Linked DNA regions of Homo sapiens. The protein of the gene in region 2 interacts with the protein of the main gene of each other region in a pairwise test. Each region holds a gene or a part of one and is shown on either strand. Other genes may lie near its edges.

Evidence for each region.
Region 1: the proteins of HSD17B4 (region 2) and MVK come close enough for resonance energy transfer, tested with the Homo sapiens proteins (one large-scale study listed by BioGRID).
Region 3: the proteins of HSD17B4 (region 2) and CDK7 interact in a two-hybrid assay, tested with the Homo sapiens proteins (one large-scale study listed by BioGRID and IntAct).

The regions. Positions count from the first base shown.
Region 1 is NC_000012.12:109,590,794-109,594,444, reverse strand, and holds part of MVK (mevalonate kinase), read right to left. Parts: coding exon 3,584-3,651; intron 3,205-3,583; coding exon 3,088-3,204; intron 1-3,087. UniProt on the Homo sapiens protein: Catalyzes the phosphorylation of mevalonate to mevalonate 5-phosphate, a key step in isoprenoid and cholesterol biosynthesis.
Region 2 is NC_000005.10:119,455,497-119,459,147, forward strand, and holds part of HSD17B4 (peroxisomal multifunctional enzyme type 2), read left to right. Parts: intron 1-818; coding exon 819-872; intron 873-3,651. UniProt on the Homo sapiens protein: Bifunctional enzyme acting on the peroxisomal fatty acid beta-oxidation pathway.
Region 3 is NC_000005.10:69,241,363-69,245,013, forward strand, and holds part of CDK7 (cyclin-dependent kinase 7), read left to right. Parts: intron 1-3,651. UniProt on the Homo sapiens protein: Serine/threonine kinase involved in cell cycle control and in RNA polymerase II-mediated RNA transcription. Cyclin-dependent kinases (CDKs) are activated by the binding to a cyclin and mediate the progression through the cell cycle.

The DNA.
Region 1 (3,651 bases), on a different chromosome or scaffold from region 2:
CATGCCTCCCTACAGCTGCCTTGGGGACTGGTTTCAGAATAAGAACTAGGTGTAACTCCAGCAAGGCCATAAGCAGGGAAACAGCTGTTTGTCTAGGTTTCTTCAGTTATGCAGGATAAACTTCCTGCTCTTTAAGGATCCAACAAGATGCATGTGGATGAAAAAATAAAACTTCACAGCTTCCACTGCCCAGGCACCCAGTAGTTAGATTTCATTTACCAAACACCCACAACGTGCTGGGGCTCTAAGGATGGGTGCCCAGCCACGGTCCCAGCCATCAGGAAGTAAAAACCATGGGATTTGGAGTCAAGTAGGCCTGTGTTCGAGTCTCTGCTCTGCCCCTTTTTGGTCGTGTGTCCTTGAGCAAGGTCTTCTGCACTGGGTCTGTCTCCTGCTTGTAAACCGGGGTCATAAGAGTATCTGCCTCAGCAGGGTGTGGTGGCTCACGTCTTTAATCCCAGCACTTTGGGAGGTCGAGGCGGGTGGATCACTTGAGGTCAGGAGTTTGAGACCAGCCTGGCCAACATGGCGAAACCCCATCTCTACTAAATATACAAAAATCAGCCACGTATGTTGGCGTGTGCCTGTAATCCCAGCTACTCAGGAGGCTGCGGCACGAGGATCATTTGAACCTGGGAGGATGCAATGAGCCAAGATTGTGCCACTGCACTCCAGCCTGGGCGACAGAGCAAGATGACTCTGTCTCAAAAAAAAAAAAAAAAAAAAAATCTGCTTCTTTGCCCTGAGACGAAACAAGGTGAGTTTTCTGTTCAATGCCTGGCACGAGATATGTGCTGTTAGTATTTTTATGGGTACGTTAGCATCATCCCCACTTTACAAAAGGGGAAACAGAGGCTCAGAGAAGAAGTGACTTGCCCACGATCACTGAGCTAGTAGGTACCAAGCTGGCACTGGAAGGCGGGTCTGCCTGACATGAAGCTCCTGTCTACCCTGCCTCTGAGAGCACCCCCTGGCATTCCTCACTTCCGTGTGAAGCTCTGTTCCGGGGCACCTGGATTGCCTGTATACCAGGAGTTGCCAATCACTGAGGCATCTCTGCGGAGGCCCACCTAGCTCTCCCGCATGGGGATGGCCGGTCAGGCAGGGTTGGAGTGGCCCTCCCCAACAGCCTGCCTCATACCTCGCTCTGCGCCAAGCTCACCATTTTTGACAAATGAGCAGACAGGCATGATGGCCTGGTGGCAGCCCCGGGTGCCTCTCACCAGCCTGATGGGCTGGATGTGAGAGAAGACTTCTGGGGGCCGCTCTCTGCGCCTGAGCACCAGGTGTCACGTTGCCGAGGCAGGTTCCAGACACCTGTCACATTCTGATCCAAAATCTGTCAAGGATCAGATGACAGGTTGTGACACAGGAGAACAGTTCGCTGGTTTGAGTGCAAAGCTGTCCAGGAGCTGAGCTGCACATTTCAGCGGCTGCCACAGCCAAAAATACACACAATGTATAATCAACGTGCTGTTCTGTGGCATTCTCCAGGGACTCGACAGGGTGTATTTTAGGCAGTATTCTATCATTATTGATTTCCTACTCGGGGGGACTGTGTTCCCTCCTTTCTATGTGGAAGGAATTGAGAGCTAGGAAGACAAAGACTGAGGGAATGAGGGCCGAAACACAGGAATTCGATGGAGGCGCTGCCCTGGCACATAGTAGGTGCTCATGACAGATCTGTTGAATAAAGGGACAGACCAGTCCGTCGGCTGGACCCCTGGCTCGGCCACTCACTAGCTGGATAACCTTGGGGGAAGTCTCTCTTCAGGCCTCAGTTTTTACATCTGTAAAATAGGGATAAGACACCTACTTCACAGGGAGGTGGGTGTGAGGATCAAGTGAAAAGAATCATTTGTAAAAGGCTTGCTTTAGTGGCAGCTTCCACTCAGCACAGGGGCTACAGACTCGAATGCCCACGGGGGACCGGGAGACACCAGGCAATGACTACAGAGTGCGGGGCGCGGGGAGGGACTGTGGTGACATGGAGACCGCACGCCCCTCTCCTGTCCCTTCACTGACGGCTGCTGCACAGCCACGGCAGCTAGGGGCCACCCGATCCTCTCATTCTGCAAGGGCAGCCAGATGGCTAACAGCCCATATTCACCAGGCCAGGTGGACTGTGTCCAGGGGGAGCCTGGGCTCTTTGGTTCCCTAAGCTCATAGCACACCAGACATTGTGCTTGCGTGTCACCCATGAGACTCCAAGCATTTTTTGTGTGTGTGTGAGACAAGGTCTCATTCTGTCGCCCAGGCTACAAACTTGACCTCCTGGGCTCAAGTGATCCTCCTGCCTCAGCCTCTCGAGTAGCTGGGACTACCGATATGTACCGTCATGTCTGGCTAACTTTTGTATTTTTTGTAGAGACAGAGTTTCACCACATTGCCCAGCCTGGTCTCGAACTCCTGGACTCAAGCAATCCACCTGCCTTGGCCTCCCAAAGTGCTAATACTACAGGTGAGCCACTGCGCCCGTCTAATCTGAGCATTCTTAAGACACTCTAGCGAGGCCACACGTCCAGCAGAAGTGGAGCTGGGATTCACACACAGGCCTGATCACACCCAAAGTACCAGGTCACAACCTCTACACTAGAATTATGCAAATGGCAGTGGATGGGGTTGCAATGATGAAAAAACAATGTTAGGATCTGTCTGACCCAAAGCAGGCAGTTGACAAGTAGTTGTTGAATGCACCCATGAAGTTAGCAATAGCAGGAGAGTGACCAAGAAGTCACCCCTGCACCGACAGAGCACTCTGCATCAGCCACATCCCCATCTACCTACGTGGGCCAGAGCTCCTTAGAAGTGACCCAAACCTGTTTCCATTGCACTTAGCACGAGCCAGGCCCTGGCCTCCCTTGCACTCTCCCAATTACTCGGAATCACCCAGGAAGAGGCCTGAAAATAAGATACGCTTATATGGCACGCACAGACCTGGGCCCAGCTGAGAGCATAGGCCAGAGGCAGGTCCTGACCTCTATGTGCTAGCTTCCGGGGGATTCTGAGCACAGCCAGATTGCAGAGCCACTGCCTTGGACAGTGGTGTGGACTCAGTAACCCCGGTTCCTGCAGACAGGCTCTTACTTCCAGCACGAGGTACTGCTCCGGGGCTGGGGCTTCCCCCATCTCTCCCAGCACGCGCTCACACTCCAGGGAGATGGCATCTATTGAGGTCAGGAGGGGGGCCACGATCTCTGGGAACTGGAGAAAAAAAGAAGGAACGGCTGGTGAGGCCTGGGGGCAGGCAGATGCAGGACAGCTGCCCCAGCAGTGGGGTGGAGGGAGGAGGTGTTCACACAGCCCGTGCCCATCCTCTGGGGAAACCACCTCTCTTCTGAGCCTGTTTTTTTGCCTTCCCAGCTGCAAAGTCAGTGTGTCTAACGAGCCCGACCACTGTCATTTTCCTGGCCAGGCTACGGGCACGGACGGTACCTTCTTTTCTGCCAAAACCACCTCCCTAAGGGCCCCCACCACCCACCACACCCCCTATAACCCATCAGCCAGAGGGAGACCTCGAAAATCCAGATGTAATTGTGTCCTGGCCTTCCTGAAACCTGCCCAAGAAGGGAACAAGAGTCACCTTGAGCAGCCTGTTTCTGACGCCAGCCACAAGGGCCCTGGTATTGCGAGGGACTTTGGTGTTGGTCA
Region 2 (3,651 bases):
ACAGAGTGAGACTGGATCTCAAAAAAAAAGAAAAAAAGCAAAACTTTCTCTCTCTCTCTCTCTCTCTCTCTCTATATATATATATATAATTTCTTTTTGGATATATAAATTTACACCTTGTAGCTTTGAGTCAGAATTAAATATTTTCTGTATTTGATGACTGTGTAGTCAGGGTTCACTGTGGGATACAGAAACCACTAGATATTTTAAGCAGCAAAGGATTCAATACAGGCAATTAGGTTTTAGGCAGGTCTTCTTAGAATAACTCCTGAAACAATAGGAAATTGATCCATTAGAGGAGGCAATACCTCTGAGGCTGTCATTGGAGCTGTGCCACAGCCCAAGTAGCACTGGCACTAGGGACCTGAAGTATGGAAGCTGCCATCCAGGGATTAGGGAGCTGAATGAAGAAGTCGCTGCTATAGTCAGTTTCTGAATACCTAGGAACTTTCAAGAAAACTAGCTTCTTAACAACAACAGCCAGAACTCCCAGTAAGGTGGTCTCTGTCTCACTTACACCTTCTAAGTTTTATGCAGATGCATCAGATGGTGGAACCCAATTCACAGCATCCTAGCAGCTAAGTAGAATGGTAGGAAGTGGTAGTAGAATAGGTGGAAAAATACAGTTTTAAGCTTTCCAGCCTCTGCAAGCAGAAGAGAGTGGATAGGTTGAGAATGTCAGTGATAGGATAGGTTGAGAGTATCATTAAAATGTAATTAATTGTTCACCAATTTCTTTAAATGGGGATTGAGTTGAGCGGACCAAAAAAATTATGCTGACATTTCTTCAACTTTCTGATTATTTTGTTTTTGATTAGGATTGGGCCGAGCCTATGCCCTGGCTTTTGCAGAAAGAGGAGCGTTAGTTGTTGGTAAGTTGGTGTGTTTTTCTTTTTAATCTGTAGCTGATAACTGAAATACAATCTTTACAAGCTATCTTTGTCTTTCTATCAAATAATTTGTCAAGGTTGAATTTTATTATTAATTTTTACTTTTGCCAGAAGGTTTTTACCCCGACTAAGGCTGTCTGTCTAAATTACTTTTAAAAGGGAACCAGTTTCACAGAATTCCCAGCTTAACAGAATTGATAACGAAGGGCTAGGGGGTAGGCATGCTGGCTTGTGGCTATAACTCCAGTGACTCAGGAGGCTGAGGTGGGAGGATCGCTTGAGACCAGGAGTTCGAGCCTGCAGAGAACTATGATTATACCACTGCACTCCAATCTGGGTGATGGCGCAAAAAAAACCCTGTTTCTCACAGAAAAGGGTGGGGACAAGCATTTATTGTATAAAAGGAAATTCTTGACTTCAGTAAATTGTAGGCTGTAATTTTTTGAGACAGGAGGTTTGTCTACTGGTGCGAGATCAAAAGAGAGCCCCTGTAAGTGTATTGATAAAAGTAAGAAATAACTGAATTTTGAGAACTGGAAGTTTGGAGTCAAGGAATCTAAAGTATGGGTTTCTTGACTCTTTCATCAAAACTTTTCAGCTGGAAGTGTTTTAAAAAAATTTAATTGAGGGGGCAGTTACATGAGTTTTTGTTTGTGGAGGGGTCAGATGGAAGATACTGTATTGAAGAATCCTAAAGGTGGGAGGTTTTAGTAATCTGCATGGTTTGGACTGATCTAATGTGCTTGACAGTTGGTGTGGACACAGAAACGAATTTGTCCACAACTGAGCCTTTCTGGGGAATAACTAAATGGGTGCTAAGTGCAGGGGGATATGTAGGACCCAGTACTTATTAGCATATTTCCTGGGATAAAACTGTGGGCCCACAATGATCTTCTAATTTCAGCTTTCTGACATCTTAACGAGGCAATACAGAGAGACGAATTTTCATCAGTTTGTTCAGGGAGACACATATAACAAAAGAGTAAGCAAGCAACCAGGTTTTCTAAACAAGCCCTAAGCAGAGCACTTGATACACTTTTCTCCTTCATTGTGGATGTGTAGCTTATCTTTATGGAAGGAACACTGACGCTTTGGATGTTCCTTGTTTAAGATCATAGGCACTGTCTGCTAATCCAATCTGCTTCTTCTGGCAGGGATGAATTTTGACATTGTATTATTTGGACAGCGAGTATATATTTCAGGCCCACTTTGTCAGATTTTCCCAAGAATAGCTCATGTTGAGGCCTAAAGACACATGCTGTTACTATTTTTAATTTTCCTTCCTTTTTATGTTGCTATTTAGTTCTTAATATTTTTACCTTATATGTTTTTATTTATTTACATCTTTTCTGCTCAATTCCATAACGGCAAGGATCTTGTTTTATCTTTTGTATCTACTAAAGGACCTAGAATATTTCTTTGTGCAAAGAAGGTACTTTGTTCATTGGTTCTTTTATTGTTGATATACTTTTCTGGGGGAAGGGTGTGTTTGAGATTGGTTGAATACATTTCTTTTTTTTGTTCTTGACTAAGATATAAACTTAGTTTATAAACCTGTTTTGTAAAAAATTTTATAACAGTGTGTTCCTGTGCATCAATTTTCCTTTATTTCCCTGTTCCCTCTCAATTTCTTAAATTCAGATTAGGAGTATTTGAATTCTAAGAAAAAATTAAACAGAGATGCTGTGTCTATCTATTTTGTCATTGCATTATTATAGTAGAGATGATAATTGTGTCAAGTCCTGATAAAAGTCCAAGAATATAGAAGAAAAATATTTCATAAACTTGAATGAAGAGCCAGATTTAGTTTAGTATTAAGGAGGAGAATTCAATCCATGTGGAAGTGCAGAAATTTTGACTGATGTTTTCTATTCCTTTTTAAAGTCTGTGTCTTACCTGTTAGCCTTTTTACATGTACACCATAGACACCGTGTTTCCAAGTTGCATCACACACACTAATTTTTTTTTTTTTTTTGAGATGGAGTCTTGCTCTGTTGCCCAGGCTGGAGTGCAGTGGCGTGATCTTGGCTCACTGCAACGTCTGCCTCCGGGTTCAAGCAGTTCTCTGCCTTAGCCTCCCAAGTAGCTGGGATTACAGGCGCCTGCCACCAAGCCTGGCTAATTTTTTTTTTTTTTTTTTTAAGTAAAGATGCGGTTTCACCATCTTGGCCAGGCTGGTCTTGAACTCCTGACCTCTTTTTAGAAGTGGCATGTCACTTCTACCGACATTTCATTGGCCAAAGGAAATCATTTGGCTAAGCCAAAAGTTAGGGGCATCATTTAAGATAGTCTCCAATTTTGTGTTAATATGATTGCTATGTTTTATATTCCATAATATAAAGCTTATGGGATATTTAAATTTGGTATAAGAACTGCTAAGCCTTAGGCTGATACTGTAAAAAGGGACATTTGCTTTTGTGTAAATTACATCTTTCAGGAAATGCTTGTGCATTTCTTAAGTAGGTTATTGGGAATTCAGTAGTTTTGAGGTTTCCTCAGTAGGTGAGCTATATCTAGTTCTCTGAATAGTAAGTTTTATTTTGAGGACATAAACACAAGAAGGACTGACAAAAAGGAGCAAAAAGAACTCCTTAGTAAAAGAAAGGGAGTTCTACTCTTGAACTGAAGTAACACCTTTGGGTAAATTGAATTACAATCTTTTTAAGTAAGATTGACATGACTTTTCCGTGCTACAGTTACATAATAATGGTAAAGCTGAGTCTTAACTTCCTGTGGCCTGATGCTAGAGCCATTGTTTTTA
Region 3 (3,651 bases), about 50 Mb from region 2:
CAGGCTGGAGTGCAGTGGCGCAATCTCGGTTTACTGCAACCTCCGCCTCCTGGGTTCAAGCAATTCTCCTGCCTCAGCCTCCTGAGTAGCTGGGATTACAGGTGCACACTGCATCACCACACCCGGCTAATTTTTGTATTTTTAGTAGAGACGTGGTTTCACCTTGTTGGCCAGGCTGGTCTCGAACTCCTGACCACGTGATCCGCCTGCCTCAGCCTCCCAAAGTGCTGGGATTACAGACATGAGCCAACGGGCCCGGCCCTCATTGTAGTTTTCATTTGCATTTTTCTGATGCTCAGTGATGTTGGCACCTTTTCTTATGCTGTCTGCCATTTGTATGTCTTCTTTTGAGAAATACCTACTCAGATCTTTCGCCCATTTTTAAATTGGATTATTAGATTTTTTTCATATAGAGTTGTTTGAGCTTCTTATATATTCTGGATATTAATCTCTTATCAGATGGATAGTTTGCAAATATTTTCTCTCATTCTGTGGGTTTTCTCTTCACTGTGTTGTTTCCTTTGCTCTGCAGAAGCATCTTAACTTGATGTGATCCCATTTGTCCATTTTTGCATTGGTTGCCTGTGCTTGTGGGGTATTACTCTAGAACTCTACCCAGTCCAATGTTCTGGAGAGGTTTTCCACTGTTTTCTTTTAGTAGTTTCATAGTTTGAAGTCTTCAACTTAAGTCTTTAATCCATTTTGATTTGATTTTTGTATATGATGAGAGATATGGGTCTAGTTTCATTCTTCTGCATATGGATATCCAATTTTCCCAGCACCACTTATTTATTTTGTTTGCAACAAAGAAAGAGTTTAATTGTCACAGGGCCAACCAAGTGAGGAAGACAGTAGATAATTCTCAAATCTGCCTCCCTGAGAATTCGGGGGCTAGGGTTTTTCAAGGATAGTTTGGTAGGCAGTGGGCTAAGGAATGGGGAATGCTGATTGGTTGGGTCTTGGATAAAATTGTAGAGAGTTGAAACTGTCTTCTTGCCCTGACTCAGTTCCTAAGTAGTGGTCACAGAACCAGTTGAGTCAGTTTCTTCATATGGGCTCCTGGTCCAAGTGGCACCAGTTGGTCCATCAAAATGCAAGGTCTGAAAGATACCCCAACCACCAGTTTTACGTTTTACAATAGTGATGTTATCTATAGGAGCAATTGTGGAGGTTGCAAAATTCTTGTTACTTTTGGCTACATAACTCCTAAACAATAATTCTAACCTCGTGTAATTTTACAAAGATGCTTTTAGTCTCTGAGCAAGGAGTGGGTTAATTTTGGGAAAGGACTGTTAATCATCTTTGTTTTAAAGCTAAACTTTAAACTGAATTTCTCCCATAGTTAGCATTGCCAACACTCAGGAATGAGCAAAGAGCTTGTGAGATTAAAAGCAAAGATAGGGCCAGGCGCAGTGGCTCATGTCTGTAATCCCAGCACTTTGGGAGGCGGAGGCAGGCGGATCACCTGAGGTTGGGAGTTTGAGACCAGCCTGACCAACATGGGGAAACCCTGTCTCTACTAAAAATACAAAATTATCCGGGCGTGGTGGTGCATGCCTGTAATTCCAGCTACTCTGCAGGCTGAGGCAGGAGAATTGCTTGAACCCAGGAGGTGGAGGTTGCAGTAAGCTGAGATTGCACCTTTGCACTCCAGCCTGGGCAACAAGAGCAAAAACTGTGTCTCAAAAAAAAAGCAAAGATGGAGTCAGCTATATCACGTTTTACTCACTGTTGTAATTTTTGCAAAGGTGGTTTCAAAAATATGCCTTTTTGGCATGTTGATTGTTGTGAGCTGGTTATCCTGAGAAACTGCAGATACAGGAGTAGTTCTGAAAAGTTGCCCTTTTTTAAGGGAAGTGTACGTTTGTAAAGGAGTATCTCTTTGACAGGGTGTCTCCCTCTCTGCACCAGGAAGAGAAGAAAGACTAGAAAGACTAAATCTCTAGAGACTGTCAATGCAGAAGGCATCAACTTAAGTCTGTACAGCAAACCTAACCTCTGCTTAAGGCACAGCACCATTTATTGAAGAAACTGTCTTTTCCTCATTGTATGTTATTGGCACCATTGTTGAAAATGAGTTTGCTGTAGATGTATGGATTTTTTTCTGGGTTCTCTATTCTGTTCCATTGGTCTGTGTGTCTGTTTTTATGCCAATATCATGCTGTTTTGGTTATTATAGCTTTGTTGTATGAAGTCGGGTAATGTGATTCCTCCCTTTTGTTCTTTTTTCTTAGGATAGCTTTGGCTATTCTGGGTCTTTGTGGTTCTACACAAATTTTAGGATTGTTTTTCCTATTTCCATGACGAATGTCATTGGTATATTGATAGAGATTACATTGAATCTATAGATTGCTTTAGGTTGTATGGACATTTTAACAATATTGATTCTTCCAATCCATGAATATGAATTATCTTTCCATTTTTTTGGTGTGTTGTCTTCAATTTCTTTCACCAATGATAGTTGTTTTTTTTTTTTTTTTTTTTTTTTGAGATGGAGTCTCGCACTGTTGCCTGGGCTGGAGTTCAATGGTGCAATCTCAGCTCACTGCAACCTGTGCCTCCCGGGTTTGCGCCATTCTCCTGCCTCAGCTTCCTGAGTACCTGGGATTACAGGCGCATACCACCACAGCTGGCTAATTTTTTGTATTTTTAGTAGAGACGGGGTTTCACTATGTTGGCCAGACTAGTCTTGAACTCCTGACCTCGTGATCCGCCTGCCTTGGCCTCCCAAAATGCGGGGATTACAGGCGTGAGCCACCATACCCGTTCAGTAGTTTTTATTTTAGAGATCTTTCACTTAATTTGGTTAATTCCTAGATATTTAATTTTATTTGTAGCTGTTGTGAATGGGATTACTTTCTTGATTTCTTTTTCAGATTGTTCACTGTGGGCATATAGCAGGGCTACTGATTTTTGTATGTTGATTTTTGTATCCTGCAACTTTTGTGAATTATCAGTTCTAGTCGTTTTTTGGTGGAGTCTTTAGGTTTTCCCAAATATAAGATCATATTGTCACCAGGTGTGGTGGCTCATGCCTGTAATACCAGCACTTTAGGAGGCCGAGGTGGGCGGATCACCTGACCAACATGGAGAAACCTCGTCTCTACTAAAAGTACAAAAAAAATTAGCCAGGCATGATGGCGCATGCCTGTAATCCCAGCTACTTGGGAGGCTGAGGAGGGAGAATTGCTTGAACCTGGGCGGTGGAGGTTGTGGTGAGCCAAGATCACACCATTGCACTCCAGCCTGGGCAACAAGAGCAAAACTCCGTCTCAAAAAAAAAAAAAAAAAAAAAGATCATATCGTCTACAAACAAGAAGAATTTCACTTCTTTGCTTGCTCTTGCTAGGACTTCCAGTACTATATTGAATAACAGTGGTGAAAGTGGGCATTCTTGGTGTGTTCAAGCTCTTAAAGGAAATCAGTTTTTCCCCATTCTGTATACTGACCATGGGTCTGTAGTATATGGCTTTTATTATGTTGAGATATGTTCTTCTATACCCAGTTTTTTAAGAGTTTTTATCATGAAGGGATGTTAGATTTTATCAAATGCTTTTTCAGCATCAATTGAAATGATTATATAGTTTCTGTCCTTCATTTGTTGATATTACATATCACGTTGATTGATTATAGCATATGTTGAACCATCCT